Regions from separate parts of the Homo sapiens genome. Here region 2 is linked to region 1. Evidence: fine-mapped expression QTL. Tissue or cell type: prefrontal cortex. Region 1 holds a variant in brackets; the other region holds the start of a gene. All regions are shown on one strand. Distances are from middle to middle.

What was found. PIP is the estimated chance that this variant, and not a neighbour inherited with it, causes the effect.
Region 2: it holds the start of GNRHR, and the variant in region 1 is fine-mapped to the expression of GNRHR in prefrontal cortex (CommonMind, PIP 0.94).

The regions. Positions count from the first base shown.
Region 1 is chr4:67,191,432-67,195,791 of GRCh38, forward strand. No RefSeq gene overlaps it. Among named protein-coding and RNA genes, the nearest start is that of CENPC, 350 kb to the right of the region's middle. The variant A/AAAAAAAAC (reference allele first, on the strand shown) is at 1,819.
Region 2 is chr4:67,752,567-67,756,712 of GRCh38, forward strand. It overlaps GNRHR (gonadotropin releasing hormone receptor), which reads right to left and starts at 1,822. Exons shown (of 3, transcript NM_000406.3): 1 at 1,248-1,822. The coding sequence starts at 1,769.

The DNA.
Region 1 (4,360 bases):
GAGTAGGTAAACAAAACAAAACAAAAAGATATTCTAAATGAATAGAAAGGACAAGAAAGATATGCTCCAGAAATGGCCACGAAGGGTGTTGAGGGTGTAATTTGTACATTGTACAAATTGTACGTTCAGATTTTGCCTTTCCCTAAAGATTCCTTCAGCACGCTGTGTTGAAGTATGGCTATCAGTATTCCACTGACAAGACAGAGCTCCACATTTTTGCTATTTTGTTCACATTTATCTTAAAAATCTTGGTTTCCCTAGGGCTATCTCTGACCTCTAGCTCTCGATTCTAGAACCACCTTTCTTATCTGAGATTATAGATTTTGAGTGCATCTAGGTCATCCCTGCTTATCATGTAATATCCTTTCCTAAGGTACGCTCCTGCCTTTCTTGTAAAACAACCTTCTCTTAGGTCCCTTTTACATGCCCCCATTTTTAAACAATATCTGTGCTATGCATGTTAACTCGTCACCACCTCAACCCCCATCTTTCAATGAGTACTCTGGGAAAACGTTTTTATTATCCTGAAGCAAGAGCCTCTGAAGTTACACTGAGAAAAGTTTCAGTTATATCAATGTCTATTGCTGCAGGGGTACATTTTTCACCTAATTTCTCTGATATCTGTTCTCTTAGCTACCCTGAAGGAGATAAGCTGTTCTATTAACAAACAGGGCAGGCTATGTCTTCCTAGTTATCTCTAAACTGAACTATATTTCCACTAATTAAATTGGACTCCCTCTACTGAAGAATCAGAGCCTACACTTGAGGCTTTCTTCTAAATTTGTGTTCACTCTTTCCCTTTAAATCTTCCCATCAGCTTGCCTTGAAACTAAGATGTCCCCCTCAAACCTCTGCTTGTTCTCTTTGTCCAAAGACTTATATATGCCTCAAAGTTGTGGTTAGACTCAAGCTTGTCTCTAAAAGGATATATCCAGTACATCACTTTTTTTCGGATAATTCTAACTTTTCCTTTAGCCTTTTGGAAAACTTTCTAACTTTCCTTTATCTCTCCATTTCTACTGGGAAGAGAAAACTGCTTTCTGCTGCTGATGGTTTAAAAAATAATAATTTCTTATTAAAAATAGTCATGCGTAGCTATGCAACACATTTTAGAACAGCCTACCAGGCCAAATATATAGAAACAATCTTACAATAAGTAAAAGTAAGTTACAGATCAGATTTGCATTTCGAATAAGTTCATTTAACAAGTTAAAGCCTTCTAATCCCAGACTACGGAGGATGTAAAGTATAGACACCCTTTACCAGCGCAATAACAATGACCCCTAGAACTACTAGCCTATCTATTTACCCAGCAAGAAAAAACAGGCATGCATTAAGAGTAAGTGGGAACACGAGGATTTGTATCCCTTGCTTCCCCTTCTCTATCCTTCAGGTGACCCCAAGAGTCACACTGCCGGTAGCATTTCTATCACAATAAGACTGCTACTGCTCCATGAATGTGGCCTACATGGAAAAAATTAGAGATCTGCACCCTAATAGCAAAACAAATCCAATTATGTACCAGCAATTTTAATGCCTTTCCAAGATTGAAGTAGCTCACTAAACCTCAGAGAGTAAGGATCCAGGGAGCATGTTTATTTATTTATACCATGCCTCCCTCCAAATAGGATTTGAAGCAGTTCAGTGAGCCTGTTAATAATGCTTATTCTCAAAACCCTATTTACTGTGTTGTGCTGCAGCAGATATCATTACCCCTGTTTGCTCTTAGAAAACCTGACTCTGGGGAGGGTAGTTTGTTTATTGTGGGATTTTCTGAAATTCAGAAGGGATCTTGAGGTCTGACAAAAAAAAAAAAAA[A/AAAAAAAAC]AAAACTCCCATGGGATATGTGAGAAGAAGGGAAGGAAAGAACCCAAACATTGGGGTGGAACCACCCTGGTAGGGGAGGGCAAGAGGAACCGAACCAACAAGGTTCTAGGATTCCCAGGATAGTGCTGATCATAGAGATCAGGGCCCACAGGGGGTCCTAGCCAGGAAATGGGACTTGGAAAATTATTGAAGAATTGTGCTCCTGACACCAGAGAATGTTGCCTATGTATTCAATTATTAATTTTTTCTTTTTGATATTTGTGATTAGGGCACTGTGGAGTTTGGAAACTTCTGCTGCCTAGAAATGACTATTTTCCATGTTTCTGGGTGGGAATTCAGGTGGAGAGAGAAAAGGCATTGCTGAGGGCTCACCAGGCATCACATATTGTGATGGGTATTTTGCATATAGAGTTTCAACAGATCCCAATAAGAAATCTGCAAAATTGGAGTTATTGTTCCCCTTTTGTAGATGAGGAAACTGATGCAGAGAGAGAGCCAATTCATCAGAGGCAGCTAATAACTGACAAAGCTGAAAGTAGAATATTTAAAAATAAAGGATCTAGATAAGACCTTTGTGTAAGAGAAAAACTTCTGAGTGATTTCTTACACTGTGCTCAGCATATAGTAGGCACAAGGCTATAGTGTCTGCTTGCAAAATTGACACAAAAATATAAAAATAAGCCATTCAATAGATATTGACTGAGTGCCTACTATGTGCCAGACACTATGAATCAACATAGAATAAATTCTACACTAAAATTACAATTAGAATGTAAATCGGCTTTAATCTATGAAAATGAAATTAGGCCAGCAGGGAGTCTATCAAATGAGACTATTAAAATACATCCCATAAGAGGAAGAGCAAGCAGGAAAAAATCAGGCGAAGGGACGATGAGATAATGTAATTTTAAAATTGGCTCTTGTTCTCCTGAAATACTTTTAAGATATTACTGCAAAATTACACAGTCAACAGGAATATGTCATTTTTAAAAGACTTTCTCACTCAGGTCAGTGCATAAATAATAATATGTTTTTTAAAATGTATGACTATTCATTAAACCATTGACCACTTCCAGCCTATTAAGTATGTAAGTATTTTAAAAATTACTTTAATACATATTTACCCAATAGACCAGAAAAGTTCCTTTGGTCCACGATGTGCATTTTAAAAGCTGCCTACACAAGGAGTTATCTGATTGAAGCTAGAGCCTGCTGCCAACTACATAATACGCATTTTAAAGAACAACCTAATTATGTGCTTACCCAAGAGAACAAAGTTAATACTGAGGGTCAATAGTTATTACCTTCCTTTACCATCTTTTATTCTTTTCTGTCAAATAAAATGGGAGGGGAAGTTTATGTCTGCTCTCTTATCTATTTTCTCTTGACAACTCATGTTCCAATGTTTTTTTCACCCCTACCTTCAAAAAAACAAAATAAAGGAAGGAAGGAAGGAAAGAAAGAAGGGAGGAAGGAAGAGAAGGAGGAAGGGAGCATGGGAGTAAGGAAAGGAGGTAGAGAAAGAAGGTGGCAAGAAGGAAGGAGAGAAAGGCAAAAAAAAAAACAAACATATAATTAAAAGTGAGTGCCTGGCTTATAACAAACAGGAAAGATCAAAATTCCATCCCTTTATATTATTTTATCTGAAAGATCAAAAGTCCACTTCTTAATTTATATTATTTTCTCTTTTCTAACAGTTTAACCTATATACTCCTTATTTCCAAAATTATCTAGTGTCCTCTGTTTATTGGAAATATTACCTTTCCCCATTTTCCTTGGTAAGACAGAATGATATAGGTTCCTTTCTTCACTTGCACAAAACAAAAATTCTATGTTATTTAAGTCATTGAGTCTGTTTCCAATGGCACAATATAAAGGGTTTCTCAGCAGAAAATCCATTCTCGTGCATACAAATATAAAATCAAAAACTGTATTTTCTACCTGGCACAATGGCTCATGCCCATAATCCCAGCACTTTGGGAGGCCAAGGCAGATGGATCACTTGAGGTCAGGTGTTTGAGACCAACCTGGTCGACATGATGAAACCCAGACTGTACTAAGAATACAAAGATTAGCAGGGCATGGTGGCATGTGCATCTAATCCCAGCTACTCAGGAGGCTGAGGCAGGAGAATCACTTGAACCCAGGAAACAGAGGTTGCAGTGAGCCACTGCACTGTCTCCTGGGTGACAGAGCGCAACACCATCTCAAAAAAAAAAAACAAAAAAAAAACTGTATTTTCAACAGGCAGACTGACAGGCTTACTAGTTTCTCTGCTTAGTGTCCTCATTTTGCCACACTGGCAGTAGCAATACCACCCCACCTTTGAAAGGGACCTAATAGACCAACAGAACAAGGTTGGCAGTTTCCCCATAGGGATATTTCCCCTTAACTTTTGGTGATGTATAACTACCTATTTAGCTCTAATGAATATAGCCAAAATGGAAATATCACCTCTTATTTAAGTAGTAGATGTCAGCTCCTCATGAAACAGTAAGTTACGGCTGTGAATACCGATGGCTGCCATATACGCTACTCATAA
Region 2 (4,146 bases), 560 kb after region 1:
AAATCACCTCATTTCAGGTGATATATTTGCTAAACTTATTCTTATGTATTGCATCACTGTGAAATAAATCATATATTTTTCTTCAGAAAATGAAAACATTTTAGTTTTTCCCATTATTCTTATTATGAAACACACACATATTCAAAAGAAATATTAAAGTGAGAAATTGATGGGATAAAACAGTTATCCAGCTTTCTAGTGTCTTGTGCTATATAGTGAGTTCTGCATGGCAGTTTTTTTTTGTTGTTGTTGTTTTTTAACCATCTGGTCAGTAAAAAAAAGTCTAGATAAATTTCCATTTTCAGAGGCAAGTTTTGGAGGATCCTAGTTAATTCTGATTTATTTCTTGACACATCCTTGTATCCTGGGTTTATCATGTAGTACATTTAAATGCAAGAGAAAACTTGTTCATCTGCTATTAACATTCTTTGTTATTTTCAAGAATTTGTCCTTTTCTTCGGGGATCTGATTGTTAAAATGGCAGGTTCAGCAGGTCAGTTAACTAGGCTGCTTCTGGTGAAGGCAACCTGGAAAGATAATTGCCCTCTGTGGGGAGGGCCTGTGCCTACTCTGTCAGTCATATGGCTTTCTCAATAAGCTGCCTCCAGCAAAACTCAAGCTAACTTTAGGGAAATATTTGGATTTCCAAACATCCAAGATGTCTTACTTTTCTTCTATATTCAGTCCCACTTAGCTGCAAACTGCAGAGCAACATACTAACAAAGAATAATTCTCTCTAAGCTGCAGTGACAGAATTCTTAAAATTTCCACTGAAGAAACCCTAAATAAGAAACATTATAAATATTTTCTACCTAGGCAAATTTCATAATTCCTAAAAATTATCTCAACTAAACATTAAAGCCATGTCAACCAAAACAAAAAGAAAAACAGATAAAAGAATAGGATGGAGATAAGGTCAAGTTTGAGAATCGCATTTTTTTTGGGGAAGCATTTGCTACATAATAGAGATTATGTGAGCTACTTTATTTATTTATTCATCACAAAAGCAGTATTAAGTAAGCATTAACCCCCATGTTACATTTTATCGGTAAAGGAACTGAAACCAGAGAGGTTAAGAAGTTTGCCCAAGGTAACAGAACAGAGCCAGAATTAAACTTCACTCTCTGACTTCCAGAACCCAAGCTCTTAAAGGTAATACAGTACTTCCTTTGATAAGACCTTATATCAAATTTAGATAGGAAATCTATGATCACCATATCCAAATAAGTTTGTGTATAATGGCTTACCTGTGGTCCTGCAAAGACACTACTGAGGATCCAGGCCAGGCCAACCATGGACTGTCCGACTTTGCTGTTGCTTTTCAAAGCTAGGGGCCTCGTGATAGCCAGGGAGCGGTCCAGGCTGATCACCACCATCATGAAGGCTGGGGCATACATGGAGAAAAGCTTTAGATAACTGAGAACTTTGCAGAGTAACTCTCCAGCATACCATTGGACTGTAATGTTCCACATCCCATCCAGTGGCATGACAATCAGAGTCTCCAACAGGTTGGCTAAGGTCAGATGTTTTAAGAGCAGCTTCATTCTTGAGAGCTTTTTCCCTTTCTCTTTCTTCTGTGTCCACTTCTGAAGTTTCAACAAGAAAGAAGCATTAAAGGTCGCAGAGAGCAGAAAAAGGAAGAAAGTAACCGTCACTCGGATCTTTCCAGACAAGGTCAGAGTGGGGAGGTTGCCCTGCATCAGTGGGATGCTGTTGTTGATGGCTGAACAGTGATTTTGATTCTGTTCAGGAGAGGCACTGTTTGCCATATTTTCCCAGGACAGAGCTTCAAGCCTTGTGTCTCTGGTGCATCTGATATTTTATTGTAACCGAATCTAAAGTCCTGTTTTATTTCTGCCTTCTTTAGATGGAAACGTCACAGGTTTAGACGTATGTCAAATTTTGTCCCTGAGATACTTAATGTGAAAGATCAAGGTTAACTTGTTTTGTGTATTGGTAATCCAACAGAGTGCTAAAACAGAGCAGGCCAAATGCATTCTGAGGGCCACATGTAACTGTAGCACCTCAGCAGATGGTCTGGCTTTCACAACACTCTTCCTAAGTGAAGAAGGATAGTCACAGCCTAATTTTGAATTTAAAAGTCAGTCATGATATTATGATTTAAATAACTTTAAAAAATTTTTCTAAAAACTATTTAGTGTTAGTGTTCTGTCCAACATACAGATGTATAATGATAATGAAGAAAAATGAAAACAACTAGATCCAATTAAAATCCATTGTCTTAAGGAATTAACACATTTCTCAAAAACATTTCTTTGTTTTCCTTTTCAAACACACTGTTGAGCACTCGAACACTGGACAAATATATTCACTTAAAATTATTCTACAACAAATTAAAACTTTAAATTAGAATCAATCCAACTGACTGCATTCAAATTTATTAATCAATCTTACTGATCCAATCCATGCTTAAGTTAGAGTAAAACGGTTAATCAGTTTTTAAATTATTGCCTTGGTTTTTATAATTATCTAAATATTGTAGTTGCTGTTATTACACATTAATGCATAAGGAAACTAGTTATTGAAGAGAATACTGTGTAACTGCTGTAAGTGCATTTATATGTGTTTATGTTAGTATAATATGAATATGTTCTTTTATAGGTTATCTGATCATTTCAAATTGGGACCACTTAGGAACTTTTTCTGTGTTGTTTCTTTAACTTTCATGGTGAGTGCTGGATAGTTATTCATCAATACTGGTAAGACTTACATTGGAATTTATTAAATCACCAGCTTGATTTGTCTAATGCCAACAAGTTTGCTTCTGCAGCAGCCAAAGCAGGTACAATGTTAAGGATAAAAGTGGCTATTTTGACTTAGATGGTGCATTCTTATTGGTTCATTTATTATACTTGTTTATTCTGTCTTAAATATTTATTTATTTAATAAATAGTTACTAAATATTTACTATATACATTATCTTAGCCTTTGCTGGTGATAAAAAGTGAACACAACATCATCCAGCCCCTTTAAGGAGCTTGTTACCACAGAAGGTTAGATAAATGTTTTAGATATATCTTATGTATCTCCTCAGCTTCTCTGTGTACTGGCTGTCTCCTGAATCTTGAGCAGCTTAGACCAGTCCTGTACCTGAGCTCCTTTTTGACTGTCACTATATGTCCAGAATTACCAGCTTCTCTCACTACTTCCAGACTTGAAATATTTATATCCTCTATTTATATAGAGTATCAAGGAAAGAGATTTTCTCACACCTGAGATTTGTGACCATAAAATTTTTACCTACGTCAAAACTAAGTTCTGACTCATCTAGGAGAATTACAAAAAAAAAATTGTGCCTACTATATTAGCTATAATAAGTTCCTTATAAGCAATCAGTCTTGAATAAGATAATTTATTTTTCTGAAGAACTCAAAAGGCTTTGCATATACATCATGTCAGTTAATCTGATCAGGGCCATATGCCTGAAATGAACAAAACAGGATAACCATTGGAAAGACATACAAATATGAAAAGTGTTTGTAAGTGGACCAGCAACCAAAAAACAAAGGAAAGAACATTTATGTAAAAATCCAATTTTAGTGAAGTATATTTTGCTCTTTGTCTTCTATATCTAGGGGAAAAAGATTAGAGCATATCATTCATTATTTGTCCCTTTTCCTCCCATTCCTTCCCTTCCCCTTCCTTCCCTTCCCTTCCCTTCCCCTTCCCTTCCCCTTCCCTTCCCCTTCCTTCCCTTTTCCTCCTTTCATTCCTCTCTTCCTCCCTCCCTCCCTCCCTTTCTTTGTTAATGATGGACTGATTCATTAGGGAAGAGGTTGCAACCGAGCTGAATGGGACTACAGCATATAGCGTAATAAGTGGCTGGGGAATGGGGTATGAGGACAGGGAGGGCATGCTTAGAAGCTGGAGCAGCACATGCAAACACGAAGACAATGTGAGAAAGTTCAAAGGGTATGTGAAAGCAAAAGTGTAAATAATTAGGCAGACTTCAGATCTGGAGAGCCTATATTCCAAGAAAAGGAGTTTAGGCTTTACCTATATAAAGAATGGAGTAATATACTCCTTTCTTTATATATACTTAGTGTATTGTGTAGCATACAGAGAATGCCTTGAAGGGATTTGGGAAATAGTGGGCAATCAAAATTCAGGGAGGTTAATCTATTT